Linked DNA regions of Homo sapiens. The protein of the gene in region 1 interacts with the protein of each later gene in a biochemical or structural test. Each region holds a gene or a part of one and is shown on either strand. Other genes may lie near its edges.

Region 1 (5,951 bases):
ATGGCCTGCCTGCACAAACCCTAGGTGCAATGTCCTAATCCTTGTTGGGTCTTTGTATTCAAGTTTGAAGCTGGGAGGGCCTGGCTACTGAAGGGCACATATGAGGGCAGCCTGAAGAGGGTGTGGAGAGGTAGAGTCTAGGTCAGAGGTCAGTGCCTATAGGCACAGTGGTCCCAGGGCCACAGCTGGGAAGGGCAAATACCAGAAGGCAAGGTTGACCATTCCCTTCCTCAAGTGCCTATTAAGGCTCCATGTTCCTATGTTGTTCAAACCCTAACTCAATCCCAAATTAATCCACCATGTATAAGGTTGAGCTATGTCTCTTATTCCTGGACACCATACTCAGCCATATTCTGGTCCACACATTAAACAAGCTGGATGACCTTGAAGAAGCTTCACCCACTCTGTTCCTCAGCTTTCCCTTCAGTGGGATGATATCAACTGGACAACAGGATGTGCGATTCTTTTAGTTCCAGCCTTCCAGGATGTTTTCACTCCCCTGTTTGTTGTTGTAGGATGGTATTACCTCCACCTTCCCACCTTCCCTATGCCCTGGTTCTGTCTCCTGTGCCTCGCTCTGAAAGTGGATGAGACCTACAATTCCTGTCCTGGTAGTTCTCCTAATGAACACACTGAAGCACGAGGAAGCTGAGATTTTTGTTGCTACATGAGAGCATGGAGGCCTCTTAGGGAGAGAGGAGGTTCAGAGACTCCTAGGCTCCTGTGGAGCCCCACTCATGGCCTTGTTCATTTTCCCTGCCCCTCAGCAACACTCCTATTGACCTGGAGCACAGGTATCCTGGGGAAAGTGAGGGAAATATGGACATCACATGGAACAACATCCAGGAGACTCAGGCCTCTAGGAGTAACTGGGTAGTGTGCATCCTGGGGAAAGTGAGGGAAATATGGACATCACATGGAACAACATCCAGGAGACTCAGGCCTCTAGGAGTAACTGGGTAGTGTGCATCCTGGGGAAAGTGAGGGAAATATGGACATCACATGGAACAACATCCAGGAGACTCAGGCCTCTAGGAGTAACTGGGTAGTGTGCATCCTGGGGAAAGTGAGGGAAATATGGACATCACATGGAACAACATCCAGGAGACTCAGGCCTCTAGGAGTAACTGGGTAGTGTGCTTGGTTTAATCTTCTATTTACCTGCAGACCAGGAAGATGAGACCTCTCTGCCCTTCTGACCTCGGGATTTTAGTTTTGTGGGGACCAGGGGAGATAGAAAAATACCCGGGGTCTCTTCATTATTGCTGCTTCCTCTTCTATTAACCTGACCCTCCCCTCTGTTCTTCCCCAGAAAAGATAGATGTGGTACCCATTGAGCCTCATGCTCTGTTCTTGGGAATCCATGGAGGGAAGATGTGCCTGTCCTGTGTCAAGTCTGGTGATGAGACCAGACTCCAGCTGGAGGTAAAAACATGCTTTGGATCTCAAATCACCCCAAAACCCAGTGGCTTGAAACAACCAAAATTTTTTCTTATGATTCTGTGGGTTGACCAGGATTAGCTGGGTAGTTCTGTTCCATGTGGTGGAACATGCTGGGGTCACTTTGGAAGCTGCATTCAGCAGAGTGCCTGGCTTGCGCTGGGCATCCAAGGTGGTCCCTCATCCTCCAGGCTCTCTTTCCATGTGATCTCTCAGTGTTTAAGAGTTAGTTGGAGCTTCCTTACAGCATGGCGGCTGACTTCCAAAAGGGATTATTCCAAAAAGAGCCTCAACATGCAGGCGCTTATTATGACTTCTGCTTGCATCATCCTATTGGCCAAAGCCAGTCACGTGGCTAAGTCTAGCCCCCTGTGAGAGGAGACTGCATAAGAGTGTGAACACCAGGAGACACGGTCACTGGGGGCCACCACTGTAACCATCTACCACAGGACCTGAATCTCTGTGTGCTACTCCCTTGCTCAAGGGCCCCCCTACCCACGCAGACCTGCTGTCTTCTAGCAAAGCCCATCCTCAGGACCTTTCTCTTCCAATCCTTATTGACTCAAATTGATTAGTTGGTGCTCCACCCAGAGCCCTGTGCTCCTTTATCTCATGTAATGTTAATGGGTTTCCCAGCCCTGGGAAAACATGGCTTTGTCTCAGGGGCTTGCTGGATGCAAGCTTAACCTCAATGTGAGTGGCCATACTGTGGCACTGTCCCATCCCTCACCAGGGACACTGTTCTGGAGGGTGACTGCCTGTTCTGTGAGGAGTGGGGATGGCTAGGACATTGCATGGAACACACCACCACCCCATCTTCTCAGAGCTCAAACCCTGACAGAACACCAGCTCCACAGGCCTTGGCTTCTGCTGATGGTGCCGTGTATTTACCAGACTTAGTGGTCCAAGGCCAGAGTGGCCAGATTTCCCAAAGTCAAGGTGTGACAGTGGGACAGCCTCTTTGTGTCTTTGCTGTCCTAAGAAACCTGGGCCAGGCCAGGCGCAGTGGCTCACGCCTGTAATCCCAGCACTTTGAGAAGCCAAGGTGGGCAGATCACGAGGTCAGGAGTTTGAGACCAGCCTGGCCAACATGGTGAAACCCTGTCTCTATTAAAAATAGAAAACATTAGACAGGTGTGGTGGTGCATGCCTGTAATCCCAGCTACTCAGGAGGCTGAGGCAGGAGAATCGCTTGAACCCAGGAGGTGGAGGTTGCAGTGAGCCGAGATTGTGCCACTGCACTCCAGCCTAGGCGACAGAGCAAGACTCCGTCTCGGGAAAATTAATTAATAAATAAATAAACCTAGGTCCCAGAGTCCCACAGAATGGCAGACAGGAGCACCTGGGGGCTTTTAGGGTATGGCATTTCCCCTGTACTAACTCTGGGCTGTCCAGAGGGCCATTTCATGGCGTGGAGTGGAGAGGGAGGCAGCACAGGACTTCCTAGGCCTCAGCTCTCACCTGCCCATCTTTTGATTTCCAGGCAGTTAACATCACTGACCTGAGCGAGAACAGAAAGCAGGACAAGCGCTTCGCCTTCATCCGCTCAGACAGTGGCCCCACCACCAGTTTTGAGTCTGCCGCCTGCCCCGGTTGGTTCCTCTGCACAGCGATGGAAGCTGACCAGCCCGTCAGCCTCACCAATATGCCTGACGAAGGCGTCATGGTCACCAAATTCTACTTCCAGGAGGACGAGTAGTACTGCCCAGGCCTGCCTGTTCCCATTCTTGCATGGCAAGGACTGCAGGGACTGCCAGTCCCCCTGCCCCAGGGCTCCCGGCTATGGGGGCACTGAGGACCAGCCATTGAGGGGTGGACCCTCAGAAGGCGTCACAACAACCTGGTCACAGGACTCTGCCTCCTCTTCAACTGACCAGCCTCCATGCTGCCTCCAGAATGGTCTTTCTAATGTGTGAATCAGAGCACAGCAGCCCCTGCACAAAGCCCTTCCATGTCGCCTCTGCATTCAGGATCAAACCCCGACCACCTGCCCAACCTGCTCTCCTCTTGCCACTGCCTCTTCCTCCCTCATTCCACCTTCCCATGCCCTGGATCCATCAGGCCACTTGATGACCCCCAACCAAGTGGCTCCCACACCCTGTTTTACAAAAAAGAAAAGACCAGTCCATGAGGGAGGTTTTTAAGGGTTTGTGGAAAATGAAAATTAGGATTTCATGATTTTTTTTTTTCAGTCCCCGTGAAGGAGAGCCCTTCATTTGGAGATTATGTTCTTTCGGGGAGAGGCTGAGGACTTAAAATATTCCTGCATTTGTGAAATGATGGTGAAAGTAAGTGGTAGCTTTTCCCTTCTTTTTCTTCTTTTTTTGTGATGTCCCAACTTGTAAAAATTAAAAGTTATGGTACTATGTTAGCCCCATAATTTTTTTTTTCCTTTTAAAACACTTCCATAATCTGGACTCCTCTGTCCAGGCACTGCTGCCCAGCCTCCAAGCTCCATCTCCACTCCAGATTTTTTACAGCTGCCTGCAGTACTTTACCTCCTATCAGAAGTTTCTCAGCTCCCAAGGCTCTGAGCAAATGTGGCTCCTGGGGGTTCTTTCTTCCTCTGCTGAAGGAATAAATTGCTCCTTGACATTGTAGAGCTTCTGGCACTTGGAGACTTGTATGAAAGATGGCTGTGCCTCTGCCTGTCTCCCCCACCGGGCTGGGAGCTCTGCAGAGCAGGAAACATGACTCGTATATGTCTCAGGTCCCTGCAGGGCCAAGCACCTAGCCTCGCTCTTGGCAGGTACTCAGCGAATGAATGCTGTATATGTTGGGTGCAAAGTTCCCTACTTCCTGTGACTTCAGCTCTGTTTTACAATAAAATCTTGAAAATGCCTATATTGTTGACTATGTCCTTGGCCTTGACAGGCTTTGGGTATAGAGTGCTGAGGAAACTGAAAGACCAATGTGTCTTTCTTACCCCAGAGGCTGGCGCCTGGCCTCTTCTCTGAGAGTTCTTTTCTTCCTTCAGCCTCACTCTCCCTGGATAACATGAGAGCAAATCTCTCTGCAAAAAAGATATGGGGCAGCACTGTCCACAACAGCCTCTGCTGGAAACAACCCAAGCACCCATCACAGAATGAATTAGTACATCATGTATCTGCACACAACACAGTGCTCCTTGGCAAAGAAAATGAATGAATTACAGCCAGCTGCACCTCACAAGACAGATAATCTTACAAACATCATGTGGGTACAAGAATCACAAAAGCATGCATAGAGTGTGATTCCATTTCTACAAAGTTCAAAACGGGCAACATGGGGCTGTTGTGTGGAGGGCTGTGGAAACAGGTGGTGCAGAGAGAAGCAAGGCCATGCTCTGTCTGAAGGCCCAGTGACACTTGGCCCCTGCGAGAGAGAGTGGCAGGCAGGAGCACCTGGGGGATTTTAGGGTCCAGACAACATTCTATTTCTTGGCATGGATGCAGTTAGGCGGTTTTCTGTATGTATATTTTATTTCACAATACCTAGAAAATAAAAAGACTTGCCCCCCAACAACCAGGGTGTAAAGAAAGGAGCATCTGGGAAATTATGAGATTAGTGAATGGAGTATTGAATTTGTCCCCATAGGTGGGAGTGCAAGACCATGAGTGACCACTTATCAAACACACCTCAGTAAACAGTCAGGAGAGTGAGGAGTGTGGTCCTTTCACCTGCCCAGGTTGTTTCTGTTAGATTCTGGGCTTGGTCTCTGGAGTCCAAGAGGCAGGCCCCAGTGAGGTCATGCACTTGCTGTCTGATTTTGGCCAAGTCACCTCCCTTTGTGGGGACTGTTCCTCATTTGTTTGAGGGGAATGTTGATTTGGATGGGGATTTTCCAAACAGAGCTCCTTGGACCCTTCCCTCTAAGGTCTCTGGAAATGGGAAACCCTGCAGAGGGGAGGATAAATGGGCCAGGATTCATCCCTTGAACCCTGTTCCCAACAGAGCCCTCTGTTTTTCTCTTCTTTACAACTTGGACCTCCCATGGGACTTTGTTTGAAAGGGAGACTTCATTGCTAAAAGCAAACTAAACTAAATAGGCTAAAAGGCAACAAACTGGAGAAAATGTTTAAGGTCTTCTCTAGATCTAAGATCCTATGACGTTGAGGAGGTCATCCAACATCTCTGAGTTTTCTCTTTCTTGTATATAAAATGGAAGTAGCTGGCAGGGCAGGGCATGTGTCGTTGATATATTTTTAATCCTGGTAAAAGGAGGAGGTTCAAGGCAGAAAACTCATCAAAGCTTAATGACAACAATAGCAGCTAACATTTGTGAGGCTCTAAGGTAAAACCCAAGGCTAAGACTCTTCATGCAAACTAGGTCAAGCAGCAAGCTACAGGTTAGAAACAGGCAAGGCAGCAAAACAGTCACATGGGTGAACTCTGGGACTCTGCAGTCACACTCTGACTCTCCTGCTTGCACTGGGTGCTCATAAGCAAGCTAGTTAACACCTCAGAGCCTTGGTTTTCCCACCACTAAATGCAAATAATAGGCAATGCTGAGTTATTGCAAAGTTACTTAA
Region 2 (9,034 bases), on another chromosome or scaffold:
ACTTAACCAGTGTAAAACAACTATGATTTCTCAGGATTCTATGGGTTGACTGGACTGCTTTGCTGGTCTTGTCTGGGCTCACTCATGCAGATATAGTCAGCTGGCAACACACCTGGGGCGGGACTCACATGCATATCTTGCTCTTGCCTGGATCTCTCTCTCTCTCTGCACAGTCTCTCATTCAGTAGTTTAGCTTGGGCTTTCTTAGGTGCCTATGAGAGGGGAAGTCGCAAGACCTCTTAAGGATAGCCTAGGAAGTCTCACGTCAGTTCTCTAGTACTGGTCAAAGTAAATCAGAAGACCAGCCCAGATTCAAGGGGAGGGGAAATGGAGCTTACTACTACCTCTTTAGTGGCAAAGTTACATTGCAAAGGAGCCTGGACAGAGGGAGACACGATTCATTGGAAGCCGTTACTGTAGCAGTCTACCACATGGTGTTATTGTGAAGATTAAATGAAATAATGTGCTTGATAACTGATAGCCAGTGCAGTCTTAGCCATAACTCCTTCAGAGCTGCTTTCTGAGAAAAGTCTTGGCCTTGCCTGCATTTCCTATGTGGGCAAGAATGTAGCAGGATATTTATCCTTACAACAACATCAGTTCTACCAGCTATATGCTTTAAGAGAAATACCCTTGAAATATATCAGTGTGTTTTTTTTTAATGTATTTTTTCTTGTATGTACTTTTAATGAAGGTTTTTGGGTGTTTTTTTTAGGAGCTGAGTAACAAAGGATTCCATATTAAAGAATAATGGAATACATTGTTTCTAAAACATCAATACTGTGTGTTCCTAGCAATTGGGATATCTGTAACAGTAGTTGTTCAATAAACGTGGTTGAATTAATGAATAGCTAGAAAGGGGCAGTGCTTGTATTTGAATCCAGGTTCATCTACTCTAAAAAGCTCATTTTAAACCTACCAGACTATGCTCGTTTTCTTGTTAAAAACTCAGTTAGAAATGCTTTCCCATAACTGTGAATTAACACAGCTGTCTAAAGTTTATATAAGAAATTAGCCAGAGGAAAAGCATTTCCTCCATTTTATAGGCTGCTTTTGTGCATATTATGCATTGTATTTATTATCTCACATAAAGCTTTAGAATAGGAGAGCCACAACGGAGGATAGACTTTATTGAGGATAGCCTCAAAGGCCCCTTCTAACTCAGATTCTGATTCTCTCTTTGTTGTCCCAAACACAACAGTTTTAGTGGTTTTCATCTCTAGAGTGAAAGTCAATAACATCTAGAGTTTACTGTGCGAAGCACAACATTACTTACATTTAAAAATCCTTAACAAGTAGGAGTAGGTGATAGTAGTGATATTATTTACATTATAATAAGAGAAAACCAAAGTACAGAGTTGAAATACCTTGCTCTGAGGTCACACAGCTAGTGGTGAAGCTAGAAGACAGTCCATATCTGCTTGCCTATGAGCCCTTAACTCTAAACAAACACATCTACCTTTTTGGCCTTATTTTCACAAAAAAAAATTGACTACACTTCAGATAGTGATTATTTTTGCCTAGAATGCCTGTCTTCCTACTGTTATTAAATTGAAATACTTAGAATGTTTAAAGATCAACCCCATCCAATGATTTCTCTCTCCTAAAAATTATATTAGCACTTACCTGTTTTTTTTGTTTGTTTGTTTGTTTTGTTTTGTTTTGAGATGGAGTTTCACTCTTGTTGCCTAGGCTGGAGTGCAGTGGCGCGATCTCGGCTCACTGCAACCTCTGCCTCCCGGGTTCAACCGATTCTTCTGCCTCAGCCTCCCAAGTAGCTGGGACTACAGGTGCATGCCACCACACCCGACTACTTTTTTTTGTATTTTTAGTAGAGACAGGGTTTCACCATGTTGGCCAGGATGGTCTCGATCTTTTGACCTTGTGATCCACCTGCCTTGGCCTCCCAAAGTGCTGGGATTACAGGCGTGAGCCACCGCGCCTGGCCAGCACTTACCTGTTTTTAAGATTTTGTCTTTAATTTTGTGTAGCTTCATTATGATATGTCTGTGGATTTGTTTTTACTTTTCTATGTCAGTTACCCTTTGCTGTGAAATAAACCCCAAAACTTAGGGCTTAAAACAACAGTCACTTATTTAGCTTATAATTCTGTAGGTTGGTAGTTTGGATTGGGCCCAGCTGTATGGTTCTTTTCTGCTCCACGTGGTCTTGGTTCCACATGGGCTCCCATGTGGGTCTATAGTTAGCTGCCAGCCAGGCCAGGTAGGCAGCTCTGCTTCTGTGGATTGGCTGGCTTGTTGGCTGGGGCAATATAGTTGACTGGGCTACATATCTCATTAGCCAGTATGTTAGTCTGAGCCTGTTCATGTGACAGCAGCAGGGTTCCAAAAGACAAACACATACAAGGCCTCTCGAGGTCTGGGCTCAGAACTAGCACTTCATTTCTACCACGTTTTATTGGTTAACCCCAGATTCAAGGGGTAGGGAAATAAACTCTACCTTTTGATATGAAGAGCTACAAAGTTGTATTGTAAAGGGACATGGGTACTGGGAGTGAAATTATATTGTGGCCGTTTTTTGTAAGCACTCTGTCACATTATCCTGGTTAAGCTTCACTGGGTTTCCTGAATCAATGGATTAAATCATTTCATCAGTCTTGAGATGTCTTCAGTTATATCTCTTTATTTTATTTTAGAGACAGGGTCTTGCTCTGTTGCCCTGGCTTGAGTGCAGTAGAGAGATCATGGCTTACTACAGCCTTAACATGCTTGGCTCAAGCAATCTTCTCGCCTTAGCCTCCTGAGTAGCTGGGACTATAGGCACGTGACACCATGCCTGGCTAATTTAAAAACATTTTTTTTGGTACAGATGGGGTCTCCCTATGTTGCCCAGGCAGGTCTCGAACTCCTGGGCTCAAGGGATTCTCCTGCCTCGGCCTACAAAAGTGTTGGGATTACAGGTGTGGGCTACTGTGCTTGGCCTGTATCTCTTTAAATGTTGCCTCTGCCCCATTCTGTTTCTCCTCTAGGCTCCGGTGAAATCCCTGTCAGGCCCACTGACTATAACCTCTAGGCCTCTTACTCTGTCTTTTCCATTTCAATGCTTTATTCTGGATTAGTTCTTCAGGCCTACCTTCTAGTTTATCACTTCTTCAACTGTGTTTAATCTGCCGTTAAGTACTCCATTGAGTTTCTAAGTTGGGTTGTATTTTTTAGCTCTGTAATTTCTGGTGGTTCTTTTTTCCAATGATACTTTTTATGGCTCCTGGTCTGTTGCTGAAACTTTAAAGCTTGTCTTTATCCCCATGAACATTGTAAGCATAATTGTATCATGCTCTTTCTGATAACTCCAGTCAGTATTTGACGTTTTGGTTGTTGCGATTGTCTGTTGCTTTTGTTGATTCTAGAGAGAAATTTCATTACCTGAGGGTGCTAACAGTGTATAATCAAGGCTTCAGAATTTTTTTGGTTTACCTGGGTGGTCTTGGGATAGAATTTGTAACCTTACTTCCAAAGTGTGTGTCTCCTCCTTTGGCAGAATATGGAACTTCCATTCCCATTTGTGCAGCTCTATTAGTCTGCCAGAAATGGCAGCTTGCTTCTCAGTGCTTCCAGCAGATTCGCAGTGAGCCCACCTTCTCCTCCCTACAAGAAGTGCCACTCTACCTCTCAGCCATCTTTCCACAGTCAGCAAATGCCTTTAGACAGAATATATGGTTTATCTTATTTTCCTCATTTTACCTTTCTTGTTAGGATTTTATGCAATTACATTTTTTTTTTCATTTCTTTCAGCTTTTTATGTTGGCTTTTTTTTTTTTTTTTTTGAGGGAGGGTTGGTCCAGTCGTTTAGTTCACCATTACTGTAAGTGGAAGATCTGTTAATACCTACCTTTACCACCCATTGTGATCTTAAATGATGACTGTGGTACATTTTCATGCTTTATTTATCTCCAGATTCCTTTCAAGTGCCAAGAAATTAAGAATCAACATACTGAATTTGGTTCATATACATTAAAGATGCTCAATTCACTGATGATAAATGGATAGGAGAGATGTATGATGCCTTAGTAATAAAACTTATTTTCCTCCATAAGTTTTTTTTTTTTGTTTTTTGTTTTTTTTTTTTGAGATGGAATCTCACTCTGTCGCCCAGGCTGGAGTGCAGTGGCATGATCTTGGCTTACTGCAATCTCCACCTCCCGGGTTCAAGCGATTCTTCTGGCTCAGCCTCCTGAGTAGCTGGGACTACAGGCACACGCCACCACGCCCGGCTAATTTTTGTGTTTTTAGTAGAGACAGAGTTTCACCATGTTGGGCAGGCTGGTCTTGAACTCCTGACCTCAGGTGATCCGCCCACCTCAGCCTCCCAAAGTGCTGAGATTACAGGCGTGAGCCACTGCGCCCGGCCAAATTTTTTTAAGGAAGAAAATATTTGGCACTTGTCACATTCTCCATATCAGTCACATTTCTCTTTGTATACTGAGTACTCATATAAAAAGCTATTATTATCTACGAAGCCTTATTTGACAAATCTAGTCCATTTTTGTTTTACTCTCACTCTGTCACAGGCTGGAGTACAGTGGCTCACTGCAGCCTCCACCTCCTGGGTTCAAGTGATTTTCCTGCCTCAGCCTCCCGTGTAGCTGGGACTTACAGTTGTGCACCATCACACTCGGCTAATTTTTGTATTTTTAGTAGAGATGGGGTTTCTCCGTGTTGGCCAGGCTGGTCTTGAACTCCTGGCCTCAAGCGATCGTCTTCCTTGGCCTCCCAAAGTGCTGGGATTGCAGGTGTGAGCCACTTCACCTGGCCTTACTCTCTTTTGAGTTAATATATTACCTCTTCATTTATCATATTGCTTATATTGTTCAGTTTTATCATAACTTTTGTTTTTGTATTATTGTAATTTAATACTTTTTTTTTTTTTTGAGATAGAATTTCGCTCTGTCACCCAGGCTGAAGTGCAGCAGCGGGATCTCAGCTCACTGCAACCTCTGCCTCCCAGGTTCAAGTGATTCTCGTGCCTCAGCCTCCCGAGTAGCTGAGATTACAGGCACGTGCCACCACACCTGGCTAATTTTTGTATTTTTAGTAGAGATGAGGTTTCACCATGTTGGCCAGGCTGGTCTCGAACTCTTGACCTCAAGTGATTGGCCCACCTCAGCCTCCCAAAGTGCTGGGATTACAGGCGTGAGCCACCGCACCTGACCATATTGTAATTTAACACTTGACATATTAACTTTTTATTTTTAATCTTCCCCTTTGTCTTCTCAGCCATATGATCTTCAAATACAAAGGTCATTTAAAAACTTTTTAGTATCATACACAGAATCTCATATAGCATCTTAAAATGCCTAAGGACTCAATTAACACCTTGGGGTGATTTTATATGGCAGTATTAAATTTCTGTTTAAGTTCCTGGTTTAAAACAGGTTTGTTAGTCATTTTATGTTATTCTGAAAAAGTAATCTCTGTTGTTAGATACTAGAATTTACATATTAGAGAAGCAAGGGAGCATGTAATGTAGCCACAGTGCTGTACCTCACTTTTTTTAATTAATTAATTTTTTTTTTTTTTTGAGACAAGGTCTTGCTCTGTCCAGGCACACGCCACCACAGCTGGCTAATTTTTGTAATTTTTTTTTATTTTTAAAATTTTTATTTTTGAGATGAGATATCACTCTGTTGCCCAGGTTGGAGTTGCAGTGGCAAGATCTCAGCTCACTGCAACCTCCACCTCCTGGGCTCAGGCAATCCTCCCCCCTCAGCCTCCCAAGTAGCTGGCACCACAGGTGTGTGCCACAATGCCTGGCTAATTTTTTTATATTTTTGGTAGAGATGAGGTTTTACTATGTTGCTCAGACTGGTCTCGAACTCCTGAGATCAAGCCATCTGACTGCCTTGGCCTCCCAAAGTGCTGGGATTACAGGCATGAGCCACCACGCCCAACCAATTTTTGTATTTTTTTTTTTTTTTTGTAGAGATGAGGTTTCACCACATTGCCCAGGCTGGTCTTGAACTCCTGGACTCAAGTGATCTACTTTCTTTGGCCTCCCAAAGTGGTAGGATTACAGGCATGAGCCACTGCGACTGGCCCTCAATTTATTCATTTATAAAATTGGGAGTTTATGTACACAATTTCTAAGGCCTCTATAAGTTATATAATTTGATGAGTATAAAACTTTGATCACTTTTTAGGTTGGTTTATTTTCATTTTTTCTTCCTATTCCCAATACAGATTAGTTGATTGATTATGAAACTATGTGTTAAAACTTAGGTTAGGCCAGGCACAGTGGCTCAAGCCTGTAATCCCAGCACTTGGGGAGGCTGAGTTGGGAGGATTGCTTGAGTCCAGAAGTTGGAGACCAGTTTGGGCAATGTAGTGAGACCCCATCTCTACAAAAAGAAAAGAACAGTTAACCAGGGGTCGTGGCACATGCCTGTAGTCCTAGCTACTCAGGAGGCAGAAGCAGGAGGATTGTTTGAGCCCAGGAATTGGAGGTTACAGTGAGCTATGATCATGTCACTGCACTCTAGCCTGGGCGACAGAGTGAGACCCTGTCTCAAAAAAAAAAAAAAAAAAAAAAAAAAAACCATAACAACCACAAAACAACTTAGGTTAATTAGCAAATTTATATAAGTGAGACACTATTACCTTTGAATATAATGTTGTTAGTATAAAATAATCTAAGAGGATATAAAAGTAAGAGATCTTAGCAATAACCCTTGATTTAATTAAATATGAAAAAAATAAAAAATAACAAACCATTGAATGTATAACTTATCTGAAAGCATGCCCAGGGCCATAAAGTAATTTATCTTTTAAGGACCCTCAAACTTAGCAATATTGAAAATATAATTTTCTAAAAACTTAATATTTCCTTGCTTTCTTAGAATAATTTATTTCTTCTTTTGGAATTTGCTATCTTTTCTATCCGTATATCTGCTTTCTTAAAGTCACTTTGATTCATTGTGGTTTTGAGAAATCAGATAACCAAGGTTGTGAGAATTTTGTATGAGTTGAGAGTCAGTAATGCTGAGTGGTAGCTTGAGGGTGTGCCCTACAAAATAAAAGTCATAAATCTGAATGAGTTCAGGTTCTATTTTTGTATATTTATTTCGTAACTCTATTCTGGATGACTTTCCGAATAATTGCAATGCTATGAGGTTTGTAAAATGTATTTAGTGCTTTTAAAAAATATTACAATTGGCTGGGCGCGGTGGCTCACGCCTGTAATCCCAGCACTGTGGGAGCCCGAGGTGGGCGGATCACCTGAGGTCAGGAGTTCAAGACCAGCCTGGCCAACATGCGGAAACCCCATCTCTACCAAAAATACAAAAATTAGCCGCACTTGGTGGTGCATGCCTGTAGTCCTCGCTACTCTGGAGGCTGAGGCAGGAGAATTGCTTGAACCTGGGAGGCGGAGGTTGCAGTGAGCCGAGATTGCGCCAGTGCACTCCAGCCTGGGTGACAGAGCAAGACTCCATCTCAAAAAAAAAAAAAAAAAAATGATTAAGACAAAAGAGATAAAGATTAGTATAGGCCGGGCACGGTGGCTAACGCCTGTAATCCCAGCACTTTGGGAGGCTGAGGTGGGCGGATCATGAGGTCGGGAGTTTGAGACCAGCCTGACCACATGGTGAAACCCCATCTTTACTAAAAATACAAAAATTAGCCAGGCGTGGTGGCGCATGCCTGTAATCCCAGCTACTCAGGAGGCTGAGGCAGGAGAATCGCTTGAACCTGGGAGGTGGAGGTTGCAGTGAGCCAAGATTGCGCCACTGCACTCCAGCCTGGGTGACAGAGCGAGACTCCGTCTTCAAAAACAACAACAACAACAACAACAAAAGAATAGTATAACACTCATATACTAACCACTCGTTAAGAAATAAAACATTACTAATACCGTTGAATATTTGAGTGCTTATGATGTGCCAAGAATTGAGATAATTGTCTACATAGCAGAGAACAAAACACAAGAATTCCTGTCCTCGTGGAGCTTGTGTGGTCACAGATATTAGGTAGAATAGTTATTAGATCTGAATGCAAATAAAGAATAAATAGGTACTGTCTGACAGCATAAATGGTATTCTATCAGTGCATTTGGCTTGGCGAAGTTTATTTTGTACAGACTAAGACATTCAGTCTTTAATGTTTGGTTTCGTTGCCTGGTCAACATTATCCTATTGCTGGTGACCCTACATACATTACGTCTGTAAGAGGAAAAGATTCAGGTCACCTCAAATAATGTTTTTGTGTGTCTATGTATTGCACAGTTGAAGGAAATATAGCTTATCTTTTAAGGCATTTGAAAGGAAATTGACTTTGTAGTTTAAATTCAAAAATAAAACCTTCAAGAAAAAGTGACACCTTAGATTCAGTAACAGAATTATAGATTCATTCTTTCTTGTGATGAGCTTGAAAACTTAAAAAATTCTGGTATACTATACTGAAAACTAGATGAAGTGGTACCTTATATAATTATAGATTTAATATCTCTTGTGATAGACTAGAAACTTAAAAAAAAATCTGTGGTATACTATAAAGAAAACCACAAACTATAGTACTATGAAAGAAACCAAGGTATGTAGAAATGAATAAATACACATCAAAGTTTGCATTAGAAAATATAGTACCCTCAGAACATTATTTTCATTTGGTATTGTTGTAGGTATCGTCAGATCCTGGAAAAAGCCATTCAGTTATCTGGAGCAGAACAACTAGAAGCTTTGAAAGCTTTTGTGGAAGCAAGTAAGTGAAATGGAAATTTCATGCTTGCCTTGTATTACTGAGCTAGGACTTTAAAGTTCTCTCAAGCCTTGTTTTGTATCAAATTATCAATATTAAATATGCATTGAGATTGATTGATTTTAGAATTTAAACTGTTTACAACTTGATTAATTTTCAGTGAATTATCTTCAGAATTACAATCCTAATTAAAGTTTTGTATGTTTATTGTTATAATAGCTGATAAGGGACAATATAGCATAATAGTAAAGAGAATAGTTTGGATTCAAATCCTGGTATGCTATTTTATGAGCTGTGTGATCTTGGGTCAATTATTTAACCTCTCT

What was found. The genes of interacting proteins can lie anywhere in the genome.
Region 2: the proteins of IL1RN (region 1) and COPS4 form a complex in vitro, tested with the Homo sapiens proteins (one study listed by BioGRID).

The regions. Positions count from the first base shown.
Region 1 is NC_000002.12:113,129,733-113,135,683, forward strand, and holds the end of IL1RN (interleukin-1 receptor antagonist protein isoform 1 precursor), read left to right. Parts: intron 1-1,312; coding exon 1,313-1,425; intron 1,426-2,923; coding exon 2,924-3,139; 3' UTR 3,140-4,282; downstream 4,283-5,951. UniProt on the Homo sapiens protein: Anti-inflammatory antagonist of interleukin-1 family of proinflammatory cytokines such as interleukin-1beta/IL1B and interleukin-1alpha/IL1A.
Region 2 is NC_000004.12:83,036,995-83,046,028, forward strand, and holds part of COPS4 (COP9 signalosome complex subunit 4), read left to right. Parts: intron 1-8,631; coding exon 8,632-8,711; intron 8,712-9,034. UniProt on the Homo sapiens protein: Component of the COP9 signalosome complex (CSN), a complex involved in various cellular and developmental processes.